2 linked regions of the Homo sapiens genome follow. The protein of the gene in region 2 interacts with the protein of the main gene of each other region in a pairwise test. Each region holds a gene or a part of one and is shown on either strand. Other genes may lie near its edges.

Evidence for each region.
Region 1: the proteins of TRIB1 (region 2) and STK40 interact in binary tests that used the Homo sapiens proteins (3 or more experiments, as listed by UniProt).

The regions. Positions count from the first base shown.
Region 1 is NC_000001.11:36,383,748-36,387,651, reverse strand, and holds the start of STK40 (serine/threonine-protein kinase 40), read left to right. Parts: upstream 1-1,727; 5' UTR 1,728-1,929; intron 1,930-3,904. UniProt on the Homo sapiens protein: May be a negative regulator of NF-kappa-B and p53-mediated gene transcription.
Region 2 is NC_000008.11:125,428,305-125,432,208, reverse strand, and holds the start of TRIB1 (tribbles homolog 1), read right to left. Parts: upstream 1,852-3,904; 5' UTR 1,307-1,851; coding exon 947-1,306; intron 1-946. UniProt on the Homo sapiens protein: Adapter protein involved in protein degradation by interacting with COP1 ubiquitin ligase. The COP1-binding motif is masked by autoinhibitory interactions with the protein kinase domain.

The sequences.
Region 1 (3,904 bases), on a different chromosome or scaffold from region 2:
TTTGTTAAAATCCTGGATTTTCAATCAGCTGAGAGTCTCCTGGGGGTAGGAATGGTGGTGTCAGCGCAGAGTGATTCATCTAGCTGATAATTAGAGCTCTGGAAAACCCAGAACTCATTTTTGTCAGAGTCAGGGCTTCCGGAATCCCTAGGCTTTTTGTTTTGTCAGAGAGTGGAGCTTGCTGGGCTGGGGCCTTCTTTATGCCTGTCTTTTGGTCACCCACCTCATTGAAGCCCTTCAACTGAGATGAGTATGAGTGCTCGCTGGGTCTTGCAAAAAGCTGTTTCTATAACTCCGAGTCCTCACAGTGATCCCCCAAGCGTTATCCCTGTTTGGACAGAAGGGGAAGATTGGGCAATTTGCACATAGTCACCCAGCTTGTAAGTGATGCAGCAGGGATTCAAAGCCAAGTTTTTTGGAATCCATCAGACTTGATTTGAATCCTAGCCCTGCCATTATTAGCTGTGTGTGTTTGGGCACATTAATTTCCTTCTCTGAGCACTGGCTTCCTCAGCTGTAAACAGCCTCCTACCTAATACTGTCTCAAGTGCTCCATGCAGAGTGTGGCACAACGGTGGGAGCTGTCCTGATTACTCTTGTTAGTCAGCCCTATCAGCAGCTCAGTGGGCACCAGGCATTCAGAGACAAAGGACACAGGTAGAGGCAGCCAGACTTCACTCATATCAGCTCTTGTGTCCTGGCACTGCCTATGTGGAGATGACAAATGCACATACACACAAGTGGCCACACACCCTAGGAAAACCCAGCAGTGCACACAAGCTTAGACACGTGTGCCCACACATGGATATAGAGTGACCCAGGGGACAGCTGGAAAGACAGCCAAGAGTTAGACATCATAAGCAGCAAACACCCTGACTCACACCTCTGGGACAAGGGAGTGGGGCTACGGCCGCTGGTGCTGCTGCCACTGAGCCCTTCTAGCTGCTTCTGCATGCCAAGGGAGGGAAGCCAGGCTCTTAGAGGGCCCCAGTGAGTCACTTGCCTGATGCAATCCCTTTAAAGGGCTCATCTGCTGGTGCAAGAAGCTGATTCATGGAGGGCGTGGTTGCTGGAGGAGGAGGAGAAAGGGACCGAAACTGCAGCAGGAGGAACTGAGGTTAGATAGCTGTAGTCGCTAATAGGAACGCTTCACTGTAAACCTCCCTGGTCAAGGCTTCAGGGATCTCCAGGTTGAAGGTTGCCATCCTCGGGGTTTCTACAAAGGCGACAGACCTAGAGGGAAATGAATTATGAGCGCTGCGACAGGAATTTCTGTCTTTTATTGAGCCTAACTGCAGGGCTTTCCTCACAGAGTTCCACAAACCGGGAAATGAGGATCAAGGATGAGTCACTTTTCTGATAAATACACTACAATTGGCCGATCTTCCAACCGCTGGGGACTTCAACCTCGGCAGGGGGAGTGTAGGGCCCGCGAGGTTCTGTGGGGTCGGGCGGGGCGGTGCCTCCGTCCCAGCCTCGCCGCAGATATAGATCAGCAGTAAGTACCGCCCCATTAGAGCCTCGGCCTCCAATCGTGTAACAGGTTTCGCCCAGACCCCACCCTGAACCAATCCTCAATCGGACTCTGGCCTCTTGCCTGAAGTCTTCCGCCCATCGTCAAGATGGCGCCCCAATCCGAAAGCCGTGGGGCTGGAGACGCAGGCGGAGGGCGGGGCCCGGGGGGGCGGGGCCGCGGCTAAGGCTGGGGAGGAGGGGGGCGGTGCGTCACTTCCGTTGTCAGGTGGCGGCGCCGCAGCCATGGAGGGAGGCGGCGGCGGCGGCGGCGGCGGCTCGGGTGGCTGCGCTGGGAGGCGGCGGTGAGAGGCTCGCACGCCTCCAGCCCGGCCCCGGCCCCCCGGGAGGGAGAGCCGAGCAGCCCCGGCTCTGGGCTACGGACTATGGGCGAATAGCTCTGACCACCCGGCGAAGGTGAGGGCAGGGGTCCAGGAGCGGGGAGCCGGGTGGGGGTTGCGGGTAGGCGGGGCGGGCCCCGGCGGCCGCGGCGGTGGAATCGGAGTGACAGCCTGAAGCCATCTGAGTGCAGCAGAAATGGCCCCGGCGAATGCCCCCTCCTCCGCTGGGGCTCTGCCCTTCCCCGGCGGCAGGGGCGAGGGCTGCCTCGCGCCGGGTACCGGGAGGCCGCGGGAGCTTCAGTCCCCGCCGCAGCTCTGGGAAGTGGGCACTGCCAGCTTTGCCTAGAGTCACCCAGCCAGTGAGTGAAGCAACCGGCGTGTGAATCCAGCCAGATCTTTCCAAAAAGACACCTTCTGCCTCTCCGTGTTTCCCTCCTAATCCCGAGGGTGACTTGATAGTTAGAACGAGTCCCCAGGGAGGGCCAGCCAGGGCTTCCTCCAAGAGCCCTCACTCTGGCACGGGCGCTACCGCTGCTGGGGAATTTTCATATCCCGGGCGGCGTTCAGGTACGAGTCACAGCTACCTGCTTGCCAAGGCCACGTTTGGCCGGCCTTTTCCAAGGAGAGCTTGCTGTGGTCAGTGTTTCACCTGCCGAGCCGGTCAGGCCCGCCCATTCCCACGCCACTTGGCCCCGCCTTCCAGCCAGTTAGGTAGGGACATTCGGATTCCTGATGCCGAGTTTTCTGCCCACCCCAATCCCCAGGTTTGAAGCCCTTTTGTTAGCGGAAGGAAGAGATGACAGCCGCCCTCTGTGTGGCAGGATAGACTTTGCTCTGTTTTAAGTCACTGGAGGAAACCGGTTGGCTTTGCTTTGGTTTTGAGAACCAGTGGGGAAGAGGGTAGGCATACTGGGCTGGGCGCCTTTCCCTCTTTGAGTAGTTTTGCGTGAGATAAGGAAGAGCAGAATGTGTAATTGTAGGGCCAAAATAATCTTGTTTGTAAACAGTGCCTGTGAGCTCCTTTAGTGCTTCCTAATGGCCGTGCTGTGCAAGTTGTTGGTTGGGTTAATCTAGACAGTCCTCATTCATTCATTCATTCATTTCTCACATGACCACAACAAGAGTCCTTGCCTAGAGGCAAGTGCTAGACAGCATAGTGGTTAAGAGTAGGCTTTGGAGCCAGACTTCCTGAGTTCAAATTCTGGCTCAGCAACTTTCCAGCTGTGTGTACCTGGGCACATTGCTTAGTCTCCCTGTGCCTCAGTGTCTTCGTCTATAAAACAAGGATGATAACAGAGAGAGATATTATGAAGAGTAAAAAGTTAACATGTAAAACATACAACCATGTTTGCCACGTAATAAGAATTCAATAAATGTTATCTATTTTTATTTCAAGGAGCATACAGTCTAATTAAGGGAAATTGACCTGTAAACAAATGGTTGAAATGTGGTCTAAAGAAGCTAGTAGTGGCTGGGCGCCGTGGCTCATGCCTGTAATCCCAACACTTTGGGAAGCCGAGGCGGGCGGATCACCTGAGGTCAGGAGTTCGAGACCAGCCTGGCTAACATGGTGAAACCCCATCTCTACTGAAAATAGAAAAATTAGCTGGGCATGGTGGCACAGGCCTGTAATCCCAGCTACTCGGGAGGCTGAGGCAGGAGAATTGCTTGAACCTATGAGGCAGAGGTTGCAGTGAGCCGAGATCAAGCCAGTGCACTCCAGCCTGAGTAACAGAGTGAGACTCTGTCTCAAAAAAAAAAAAAAAAGAAGAAGAAGAAGCTAATAGCAGCAGCAAGAGAGTACTGTGGGAGCCCAGTGGAGAAAGGGAGAAAGCTGTGAGCTCAGCCTTGGGGGTGGGGTGGGGACGGGAGTGTGCCATGAAAAGGCTTGGCAGAAGTGATGCTGGAGCTGAGTCTAAAAGGAGAGGAGGGGAGGCTTAGCCAGGTGAGAATGAATACTTTGAGAGCGAGATAGACAAATAAACTCATAGTTTATTCCAGAAATCTCAGATTGTTCAATCTAGTGGTATGGAAGTTGATATGGTGCAAGT
Region 2 (3,904 bases):
GTGGCAGCAGCGAGCCCCGGGACGGGGTCGGGGTGTTGGGAGTGTCAGGTGAGTTGCGGAAAACCCAGAAGCGACTTAACTGGGGGGTGATCCTATCTTTCGGGTGAAAAGGAGCGGCCCGAGGGTGCTCTGGGGTGCCTCAAGCAGGGGTGCCACGCTCGCATAAAGTAGACTGTGGGAACGTTCTGCGTCTACCCGCGCAGGAGGAGGACCCGGCGGATCCTGTTTCTAGGAGCTGTGTCTCCTCCTCCTGGATGGGATCCCTATGTTCAAAGGAAAATCGCTGGCTGGAAAATAAAGTGAATCGAAGCGAGGGTTCCTGGCCGGTGTGGGCTTTTCAACATTTCTACTCCGAGCAGATTCCTCCGCCTCGGGTGGATGACTCTGGGACTGCTCCCTTGGGAGGGCGTGTTCTAGTCTCAGCGCGGATTCAATTCGGAATCCCCAAGGCAGGAGCCGGACACAGTCTTCCAGCCCCCTTACCACCTACAACTGAGCCCGGGTGCCGTGCAAGCCCGGCAAGAGAGCTGCCAGCTGCTCCAAGCTCCTAGGAGGCACCCACTAAAGGGCGTCCTTCCAGGACATTGGCGGGGGAGGGGGGGTGGAGAGCGAGGAGAATGAGAGAAGGGGAATGGCATGGCCCTGGAATCCATTTCAATTCCACAACTTATATGGAACGCCACGCGCTACACTGGGCGCTGAGGAAAGGAACAGATAGAGAAAGCCACTGAACACTGCACTTCCTCTAGGCGCCCCCATTATATCACTCCATGGGAAACCCCTCGATCCACAAAAACGTGAACCTGGTCAAATGGCGTCTTATCTGACCCAATCTACTGATCCGCCCTGTGCCCAGCCCAAGCGTTGGCCGGACCCCAAGCACCTTTGCCTACCACCCCGTCCCGCGCCCCCGACCCCAGCCGGGTCCTGGCCCGGGAGCGCCTACCTTGCAGCGCAGCTCGCGTCCAGTGTGGATGCACAGCGCCCGGGACACATGCTCGCGCTCGGCTAGGGGCAGCAGCAGGTAGTCGGCGATGCGGCTGGGCCCCGGCGCGCTCCCGGAGCCTCCGCCGGCCCCCGGAGCGGCAGGCGGGGGCTGCGGGCTGCAGGGCGAGCCGGGGGGGCTGAGGTAGTCCGGGGGGCTGGAGCACTCGGAGAGGCGCGGGCACTTGGCCGCCACAGCCGCCGCGTCGTCGGCGTCCAGCAGGCGTTTGGCCGGGACGCCTCGGGTGGCTGGGAAGAGCAGGGCCGGGCCGCGGGGCTGCGAGGCGCCGCTCATGGCAGAGCGCACCGGACCGACCCGCATCCCGTCCTGGGCCGGGGTGGCCCCGGCTTTTTAAGTCCCGGGATCCGCGCGGGAAGACGCTGCGGGTTTGGTGCCGGCTCCGCGACTTCTTCCAGCCGGCGGGATGGAGTTTGCAGACTGGTCTTGGCTCGGCCCCCACGAGGGGCAAAGCAGGAGCCACTCCCCGGCGCTCGCGTTGCACGCGGGGACCACGCTGGCTGTGCGTCCGGGAGGCGGAGGCCGGCTCGAGTCCCCGGACCCCCGCAGGCAAGGGCTCCCGGAGCCTCGCTGGGGGCGGCCGCCACTATTGTTGCCGAGGCTGCCGATAGTCCGGGAGGCAGAGGCGGCGGCGGCAGCGGTCAGCGATCCCGGGGTCCCGAGCCGCGAGGACAGGATTCAGCAGGCTCGGCGGAGCCACGAAGCAAATGCACTTCCCAAAGCGATGAGTCTCCAGCAAAAGCCGGGGGAACTTTTTCGCGGCGCTCGGGATCCTGAGCGCTCCTGGGCTCCGGGCGTGTATGAGAGCGAGCGAGACGCGCTCAGAGAGAGTGACTGTGAGTGAGTGTGAGCGCTGCACCGATCCCGGCCAGTGCACTCCTCCTTCTCCTTTTCCTCCACCTCCTCCGCCTCCTGGTGACTCACGCTGTATACACACACACTCACAGGCCGGGCTGTGTAAACAGTTGGGAAGCCGGGTTGTGCAATGAGGTGGCTGCGACGACTCCGGCCCCGCCGCCCAGCGAGCAGTCTCCGGAGCGGAGGGAGGAGACTGGGGGAAGGGGAGAGGGAGTAGGAGGTGGGGGGAATGGGGGTGGACTTAGGGCTGGGGATGCTCCGGGCAGCGCGCGCTCGGGCGCAGGTGGTGCGTCCCGGGCCGGCCTGGACGCGCGCACACGCCCCCAGGGCTGGGAGGGGCTGGGCAGGAGGCGGCGCGCGCGCCCTCCCGCAGGCCCCCAGCTCAGCGGAGAAGCCGAAGGAGGGGGCGGAGGAAAAGTTCCCGTGACGTAAGGGCCCGGGGAAGTGGGCGGGAGGGACGGGGCTGCGGGGAGCGAAGCGACCGCTGATTGGTGCGCGCGCCTCATTCACAGTAAGCACAATGGGCTGCGGGCGCGAGGCGGGAGCGCGCACCACGGTTCTCTGCACCCGCCGCTCGCTGCAGCCCCGCGGCGACGCCTTTCGCCCCGGGGATCCCCCCACCGCCCAGCGCCTGGGGAGCTCCGGTTGGAGCCGTGGGCGCCGCCGAGGCCCGGCTGCAGCCGGAGGAAGGAGGGGGATAGGGAGGTGATGAATTCCAGAATCAGTCATTCACCCCCACGCGGTAGTTCCGGGGAAGACCTGTGCGTGGTAGTGGATGTGGCTTTTTTTTTTCCCTTTTCCTGCCCCCTCCCAGCTCTAATCCCCAGCGTCTGTTCGCTTCCACAAATAGAACCTTCTGTTGGAGGAAATAAAAGCAAACACTGGGCCTTCTGCGCTGCCTCCACCTCCACGCCCCCCCAACCCCCCCGCGCCTGCCGCCCGCCCGGATTGCACGGAAATAGCTTCTCCAGGCTCCCGGGCCGCCCCTTCGCGGTGACTCGCAGAAAGAGCTTCCTGAGCCAGGGCCGGTGGGAAACAAAGGATGTGGGGAGCGGGCGGAAGGGGCCCACGTGGCTGCCGCCGGATTCCTACTCCCTCCCCAGCCTCCACACGCGCCGCAGGGTCTAGGGCCTGAGTGCCAACCTGGGTAGGTGGGTAGGCTGGTGGAAGTCATTCTGGCCACTGCCAGAGATACCGCCTGCACCCGGGCAGCCCTGCCTGGTGGTGCGCATGCATTCATTCCGTGTGATTTGGAAGAGCATCAAAGTTGCGCGTGAAACAACTTGGAATCTGTCATTTTTCTTTCTTGAGTGAACCAGGTCAGTTTGGAGTCCCTGGGCACCCAACAATATAACTATTATTAGAGAGCCCTTACTTGTCCTTCTGCTAAATACTTAATTTTCTAAAACCAGGTCGAGCCCCAGGAATAAATCATTTTCCTTATTAATTCTCCATTCATTCAACAAATACTAATTAAGCATCTACCAAGAGCTAAACGCTGGGAATTAGAAGGTGAAAATTAAAATAATAATAATAGCTAACATGAATCGAGGCCTACAATGTGTCGGACACTGTTCTTAGCACTTTATATGTATTACTTCAGTTTTCCAACCACACTATGGGGTTATTTTTTGCCCCATTTCACAGGGAAGAAACTGAAGCCTTAGAAGGATGAAGTTAGGCCAAGCGTGGTGGCTCACGCCTGTAATCCCAGCACTTTGGGAGGCTGAGGTGGGCAGATCACCTGAGGTCAGGAGTTCAAGACCAATCTGGCCAACATGGTGAAACCCCGTCTCTACTACAAGTACAAAAATTAGCTGGGTGTGGTGGCGCGCGCCTGTAATCCCAGCTGCTGGGGAGGCTGAGGTGGGAGAATCACTTGAACCTGGGAGACAGAGGTTGCAGTGAGCCGAGATCGTGCCACTGCACTCCAGCCTTGGGGAGAAAGCAAGACTTAGTCTCAAAAAATAAAAAATAATAATAATAATAATTTAAAAAAAGAACGAAAGATGAAGTTACTTGCTGCGGTTAAGTAGCTCATAA